Linked DNA regions of Homo sapiens. The protein of the gene in region 1 interacts with the protein of each later gene in a pairwise test. Each region holds a gene or a part of one and is shown in the gene's direction. Other genes may lie near its edges. The genes, in order: SECISBP2 and SMAD9.

Region 1 (3,977 bases):
CCAAAAAGATTGGGGACCGCTGTTTTAAAGTGTTAGATTAATGTGGAGTTGACATTTCATCATTTTGGATCATTCTATGCAGGAGCATAGGTGCCTTTTCATTTGTTCAGATTTTCTGTTGCGGGGATGGTTTAAAAGACAGGGTCTCACTCTGTTGCCCAGGCTGGAGTGCAGTGGCATGATCATGGCTCATTGCAGCCTTGAACTCCTGGGCTCAAGTTACTGAGCTTGCCTCCGCTTCCTGAGTAGATTGACTACAGGCACATACCACCACACTGGGCAAATTTTTTTTCTTCTTTTTTTTTTTTGTAGAGACGGGATCTTACTATGTTGCGTAGGCTGGTATTGCGTTCTTTAACAGCATGCTGAAGTTGCCTGTAAATCTTTTCATGTTTCTTGAAAAATTCATTCCTACCAACTATAGTCTTGTGCTGCTGTTGTAAATGGAGTCATCTCTTTGATATATGCCAACTGGCTGCTGTGTGCTTGTGCCACACCCCCTCATGTATTTCTCATGCTGTTAGGAGTACTTCTCAGGTGCTGTTGGGTTTTCCAGGTGCATCACCTGCACATGGTACTCATTTCACCTCCATCCTCTCTCTGGTGCACCAGCCTTGGCTGGTCCCTGGCCCAGAAGCAGGGTCAGGGAGTAGAGGGTGGTGAGCCCTCGGGAGCCAGACCTGTGCCTCGACCAGGGGTACAATGTGGGATAAGAAACTTAACCTTTCTGTGCCTCTGGTTGTGCATCTGTCAGTGAGGACACAGCATCTGTCTGCCTTTTGGGATTTGGGGGAGGACACAGGAGCTAATAGGTGGTAAGTTTCAGTAATACTAATAGTTAACTTTTCCTGTTAAGACAATACCAGCTGTGTGTTTTCTTTCCATTTTTCCCCATATTTTTGGAGAGTTGATTCTGCAACTTGCTTTCTCCTTGTATTTTCAGGGGCGTCTGCCTTGGATATAAAATCATAGATGGGTGTGTTGCTAAGAAAAAGCTCTTTGCAACCAGTATTAACACCACACTCCATGTGACATGTCTTCCTGTCATTTTTCATTGTCCTTTGACCAGGTGGGCTGGATGACACTTTGCACACAATTATTGATTATGCCTGTGAGCAGAACATTCCCTTTGTGTTTGCTCTCAACCGCAAAGCTCTGGGGCGCAGTTTGAATAAGGCAGTTCCTGTCAGTGTGGTGGGGATCTTCAGCTATGATGGGGCCCAGGTGAGTGCACAGGGCACAGGCCTCTTCAGTCACTGCCCGTGGGAGGAAGTGGGGGCAGGTGGTCAGTGTGGGCTCACCCACAGAGCAGCCCCAGAACCTCCAGTAGGCTGTCATTGAGGAGGAGCCACCACTTAGGCAGAACCTTCTTATAAAAAAGTAGCCTTTGTCTCCTTGACATCATGGGTTGTCTGGTTCTGAACTGAGCTCTGTTCTGGGCTTGCTGCTGACATAGTGGCACCTCAGGCAGGCCCAAGAAGTCGGCCTAGCCCACTCTTTCCTCTGGGGCAGCATCCCTGGTACCCACCCATAAGCATGAGGTCCACATTACCCCATGTCACCCCTGCTTCTCTGTGGAGGTGGCCATTGCTGAGTTTGAGGGACCCGTGTCCTCTGTAGCTGGGATGTTACCTGTGTGCTCTCACTTGTGCCCAAGGATCAGTTCCACAAGATGGTTGAGCTGACAGTGGCGGCCCGACAGGCGTACAAGACCATGCTGGAGAATGTGCAGCAGGAGCTGGTGGGAGAGCCCAGGCCTCAGGCACCTCCCAGCCTACCCACACAGGGCCCCAGCTGCCCTGCAGAAGATGGCCCCCCAGCCCTGAAAGAAAAAGAAGAGCCACACTACAGTGAGTGCTTAAGGGAGAGTTGTGTCAGGTCGAGTGTCCTCTTATTTACTGACTTTAATTAGGAGTCCCTAGGTGAGCAGCTTGACAATGCTGCAAGACCAGCTGAGTAGCAGGGCCTGGTAAGTCCAGCCCATTGCCTAAGAGGTATTATCAGACTTTTGAAGTGGGAAGGGCTTGTCAGTGACTGTCTCAGACTTCAAGTCAGATGTCTTTTGACAATGGGTGGCCTTAAGGATAGCTGTACCCAAGACAGGCTTGGAAGGCCAAGTAAAGGTTCAGTCCTCTCCTAGCCTACCTACACAAGGCCCCAGCTGCCCTATAGAAGATGGCCCCCCAGCTTCTCCTCAATAAGGGGCAGCCCGGCCCAGCAGGCTGAGAACAGTGAGTGAATGTCTGCCAGGGCACCTCTGAGCACCGTGAGCTGCTGGGCAGTGGCCACAGGCTCCCTCTCTCATGCTGCTGGTTTTCTTACAGGAGTTTTCCTACTTGTTGATGCCTATTCCTCACTCGTGCTGTTTTCTCATTTTAGTTGAAATCTGGAAAAAACATCTGGAAGCATACAGTGGATGTACCCTGGAGCTAGAAGAATCCTTGGAGGCTTCAACCTCTCAAATGATGAATTTGAATTTATGAGAGTTCTTGCCTGTGTGTCTGTATTTTGGGTAAGGAGGGGAGGTCTGAAAAAGACTTTGGGGCTTTTTCTTCTGTTTTTCATGACAATGTAATTTGTGTAACTGTTGAATCTGGAAATTGATCAGCATTAAAGGGCACATGAAGCAGTGTCTGCAGGCGTTCAGTGCTGCGGAGCCTGTTAAAGGTCACTCAGATGTGCAGGTGTTAATCTTCTCTAAAAGCCTGGTGATACAGCTCTGGCTTTCTGAGCACACTACGGATCTGGAAAATACTGGAAAATGTGATACTTAGAATACTTTGGCTGCTAAGGAAACTTCCTCTCCATTGCAGAATAGCTGAGCCAAGTGAGTGAGTTTGCAGAAAGCAGGTGGTGAGCTCCTGCCTGCTGGAGGTTGCCATGGAGGGCCATTCCTGCCCGGCAACAGCACCGTCCTGCAGGGAGCCACTTGGCAGAAGGGTGCAGGGCTGCTGGTGTCAGAGCAAGAGGGCTACAGGGAAAGGGCCCTTTCTCAGGGGATGTAGCTTTTTTAAAAGATTTGGGAACACTTGGAGGATTTGCTAAAATGAGCCTCAGAAGGAAAATTGGTTTTCTAACCTGTGACTTTTTGAAATGAATTATTCCTTTCAGTCTTTATTTTTCAAAGAAACAATGTGTATTGAAGTACCTAGATTTGTTTGATAATCAACAAATCTTTCCTTTTTCAATGAACATATTCTGAATGTGGTTTCTGTCTTAGACCAGGAGGACAGAGTTTGCTTTCATATTTTCCCTGTAAGTAAGAGGGCTTATTTATTTTAAATAAAGAGTAATTATTAAATTTTGTTTCAGACTCTGGTGATTTTAGGCTTCTCAGTGGTCTCTGTCTTACTTGATGATTCCTATGTCTTAATTTACCTCCTTTGGACAGTCTGGGCCCTGAAATAAAAGGGGGCCGCGTAGTGGGGGTTCTGCTATCCCCAGCACTCCTAGGTCTGGAAGTAGTGATTGTCAAAGCCTCCAGCACTGCACAGACCTGCCGGAGCCAGATCCTGGCTCAATCCCAACCTGCACTTGCGTTTTCACCACAGCCAATGGCAGGAAAGAATTTTCACTGCTTTTTGTATTGTTTTGGCTTTGAAAGTGCTCTTAATTGAATTCAGTCTTGGCAATATTGTACCTCTTGAGAAGCGGCCTGTGATGAGCACATAAAATTGGAATAGTGAGTCAGAAATGACATGCTATGAGCAGGGCTGGAAATGTGACCAGAGGTTGGTGTATGAAGGCACCGTCTGCCCTGTCATCTGTGGAGCTCACAGTGACCAGTGTGAGCCTTGCTGTTCTTTACACGTTCTGAGCTGTTTAGACATGGGAAGTAGATGTGGTCAGCCAGGCCATCAGTAGTCCCAAGCAGCAAGTCATCTCCACCCATTTATCTTTCAGGGCAGTCAGCGGGGCCAGCAGGAAAGGAGAGGTCTTTCCTGCTTCCTCCTCCCCTCATCAGTAAGTAAATAGCA
Region 2 (3,813 bases), on another chromosome or scaffold:
TAAATTTTCCATTGTAACCCTGGACACATACACCGCACACACATACACACACACACACACACACACACACACACACAGCACATACCTGTGAATGAAAATTTTTCATGAAATGATTATTATTATACTTATTTTTCGTCAGCTGCTCTGCAATAAAGTCTGTTTTGTTTTGTTGTTTGTGCAAAAGCTGTTTTGTTCCAATTCATTGATTTCACATGCCATTGGTAAATAGAAACCCACAGTTTAAAAAAACGAACCAAACAAAACCTGGTTTAGGGAACTGTTGTTTCATGGAGCAAAAGTTTCTAAAAGGTGTATTTGGTTTAACTCGCTGAGTGTTTTTATAAAAAGCTTTTCTCTATGACTGACCTCAGCTTAAAGATCTATACCACAACTTACTAATAATGAGTTCCATGTAAAACTAAGCAGAATTCACAACTCTTTTGGGGTTCAGGTTATTCTATCATGAGACTTCTCCTTAAAGCTTCTAACCCTCTTCAGCCATTGCTTTAAGGCAGCCTGACTAGATTAAGTAAACAGAACTTGAACACAATGACTTAACTATACTTTATAAATTCATGATTGTTAAGCCACAAAATCAACCTTTCCAAATAAAACTGAGTGTAAGTCAAACTGCCAAGCGAAAAGAGCAGCTATGGAGCTCTCAACTCTCCCTTTTGTCATAGTTTATCTCTGTACAATGCCAGATAAAGCCCAGATGAGGAATAAAGTGATGTGACTATTGCTTTATACTTATTAAATCTCATCCGTTATTGTGGGACCATGCTGCCATCCTCCTCACCTGAGGTGCCCGATAATGATCACCCTAGCGGGGGGTTATAAGGCACCTTTGTTCGAAAGAAGTTTATAGAATTGGACTCAGAAAGGTACAGCTTGCCCTCCAGGGAAGCAAAGGAGAAAATTATATTTAATGCATATTAAACAAACAATTGTTGGAGATTATAAGCTACATCGATTCCAAGATCCCAAAATACTTGAGTCAGCTTACTCCAAAATGTTACCAGCCAGCCACTTTAAACATTAATGAGGTAGCTGGTTTCTAAAATCTGGAAGGAGGAGGAGGTTTTGTTTAAGCCAACTATTTCACAGAAGAGGAAATACAGTTCGACCTCAGGAAATTTAAATGAGACTGCTGAATAACTGGGAAAGAACATCTCCTGTGGATGACAGGGCAAAGAAGAATTAAGCTGATTTTAGGCCAAATAACAAATGTGACAGCTGTGCTTTTTTGTGTATGTATTGGTGTGTGATAGTGTATAATTTCTAGAAAAGCAGTTCTCATGCATTTGGGTCTTGAAAATTTCCACTTTTAAAAATTATTGAGAACTCCAAAGAACTCTTGCTTCTGTAGGCTGTATCTATCAATTTTTACCATTTTAAAAATTGAAACTAAGAAATTAAAAAAATATTGATTGAATCATTAAAAAAACTGTATTAACATAAAATATTTTTATTTAAAACATTGTTTTCAAAAAAGTTATTGAGAAGAGTATTATTGTTTTATATTACTGCAAATCTATTTAATACTTGGCTTAATAAATGGCACCTAGATTGTCATCTTTTCTCCATATACTCTATTGTGTTATGTTGTTTTGGTTGAAGTATGTGAAGCGAAGTTAGTTCACACAAATAAGTAATTGGAAAAGAGAGAACCTCATAGTCCCCTTAAAAGGATCTCAGGGGACTCCCAGGGATCCTTGGGGCACACTTTGAGAGCCACTGTCCTGAAAAGTAGTTTGGAAGACTATGTTAAGAATGGCTGTCCAGGAGTGGTGAGATTATTCACGATTCTTTTTTTCTTTTCTTTTCATTAGTATTTATTTTCTACAAGAAGATGGATTGCTTGTGCAAACTAAAAATGAGAAAGAAAGAACATACTCATGTTGAGGGCAGATTATGGAGGCCCTGGAAAAACCCAGGCAGAGGAGTTTACACTTGGGAGACCAAGGAGCCACTGTCATTTCTTAAATGGGAAAATGATAAGAGCTGTGTTTGGGAGTAAGTGAATTCGAATTGAAAGAGAGAAAGAGAGATGCTACTTCAGAGAAGTGGTGTGGTGAGTCAGACCTCAGGTGTTGGCAGAAATGGAGAGAAAGGACAAACTCCAAAGACTTTGAGGGCAGAATGACCTGAGACCTGGATATAGGAAATACAGGAGAGGGCAGAGTCAAAGACAACAGTTTTAAAATTAAAACATTTGAAGAATGTTTTTTCCCTTCTATCCAACTTTGGGGCCTGGTTCTGTTGCTCAGGCTGGAGTGCAGTGGCGCAGCCTTGACCTCCTGGGCTCGAGCCATTCACCCACTTGAGTAGCTGGGACTGTAGGTGTAGATTGCCTCTTTCTATCCAACTTCAACTTTTTCTGAATGTTACTCCGATTAAGCTAATTGAAGTCTTGTCGTGTTTTCCAGAGTTGGCCACCCTGTTCAAGGGCTTAGGAGAAAGTCAACACACTTCGCAACTTGAATTGGTCCCAGCTGCTCCCAGAAGAACGGGCGGGTTGGTCCCTATGCCACCCCTGGAGAGCTACTCGCCGCCCACTTTGCCGTGAAGGGCTGTGCGGTTCCCGTGCGCGCCGGAGCCTGCTGTGGCCTCTTATGCACTCCACCACCCCCATCAGCTCCCTCTTCTCCTTCACCAGCCCCGCAGTGAAGAGACTGCTAGGCTGGAAGCAAGGAGATGAAGAGGAAAAGTGGGCAGAGAAGGCAGTGGACTCTCTAGTGAAGAAGTTAAAGAAGAAGAAGGGAGCCATGGACGAGCTGGAGAGGGCTCTCAGCTGCCCGGGGCAGCCCAGCAAATGCGTCACGATTCCCCGCTCCCTGGACGGGCGGCTGCAGGTGTCCCACCGCAAGGGCCTGCCCCATGTGATTTACTGTCGCGTGTGGCGCTGGCCGGATCTGCAGTCCCACCACGAGCTGAAGCCGCTGGAGTGCTGTGAGTTCCCATTTGGCTCCAAGCAGAAAGAAGTGTGCATTAACCCTTACCACTACCGCCGGGTGGAGACTCCAGGTGGGTCGTCTTTACGACGTCAAGGTTTATTTTCAGAGTGAAGGTCGTGTGCCCCATTGATGGAGAATGATGGGGCACCAGCAGACAGGGACCTCTCCCAAAAGAGAGAGAGAGAAGAGAGGAGAGGGAGGTTCAGTTTTGAGGGACTCGTCCAAAATTTTGTTTCCCGGAATGAGGCAGCTGTCCAATCAAAGAAAGTTCCCATGAAAACGATATTCCTGCCTGGAATGCCACAGGAACACTCAATCCAAAGAGAATCGCAGTAAAACCCTGTTATAGCCAGTGTGAAGGAATGAAGATAAACTAGTCAGGAAAATCTAGAAAGAAGATATTTTCATTTGATTTCATTATGCTGGTAAGCTTTGTGTGATTTTGAAAATGAGGCAGATGGCTAATCGGAGAAAACTGCCATAAAAGTTTTATTTTGAGGTATCTGGGACAAGTCAACATAATCTTTTACCAGTTCTTGGGGTCCTGAAAGGTTTTAAAATGGCCTTGATAATGATGAGCTGTAAAAATTAAACATCCTCCTCCCCCCGCCCCAAACAACTGAACTGAACTGTACTAAACTGAACTAAGGCAGGGTTTTTGGCTGCTACTTTGTTCAAGTTCAGGTAAGTAGAAGATATCTCATGTCTAGGTCTGAAAACAGCCAATGAAAGAGTTGCTGGAAATCATTCCAGGCAGTTATTTTTAAAAATGGTTTTAAGTACAGACAGGTATCACTTAATGATGGAAATACATTCTGAGAAATGCATCAGTAAGTAATTTCTTCCTTGTGTGAAC

What was found.
Region 2: the proteins of SECISBP2 (region 1) and SMAD9 interact in a two-hybrid assay, tested with the Homo sapiens proteins (one large-scale study listed by BioGRID and IntAct).

The regions. Positions count from the first base shown.
Region 1 is NC_000009.12:89,356,342-89,360,318, forward strand, and holds the end of SECISBP2 (selenocysteine insertion sequence-binding protein 2), read left to right. Parts: intron 1-1,069; coding exon 1,070-1,224; intron 1,225-1,657; coding exon 1,658-1,850; intron 1,851-2,379; coding exon 2,380-2,483; 3' UTR 2,484-3,322; downstream 3,323-3,977. UniProt on the Homo sapiens protein: mRNA-binding protein that binds to the SECIS (selenocysteine insertion sequence) element present in the 3'-UTR of mRNAs encoding selenoproteins and facilitates the incorporation of the rare amino acid selenocysteine.
Region 2 is NC_000013.11:36,878,492-36,882,304, reverse strand, and holds part of SMAD9 (mothers against decapentaplegic homolog 9), read left to right. Parts: intron 1-1,527; exon of another isoform or gene 1,528-2,016; intron 2,017-2,429; 5' UTR 2,430-2,615; coding exon 2,616-3,027; intron 3,028-3,813. UniProt on the Homo sapiens protein: Transcriptional modulator activated by BMP (bone morphogenetic proteins) type 1 receptor kinase. SMAD9 is a receptor-regulated SMAD (R-SMAD).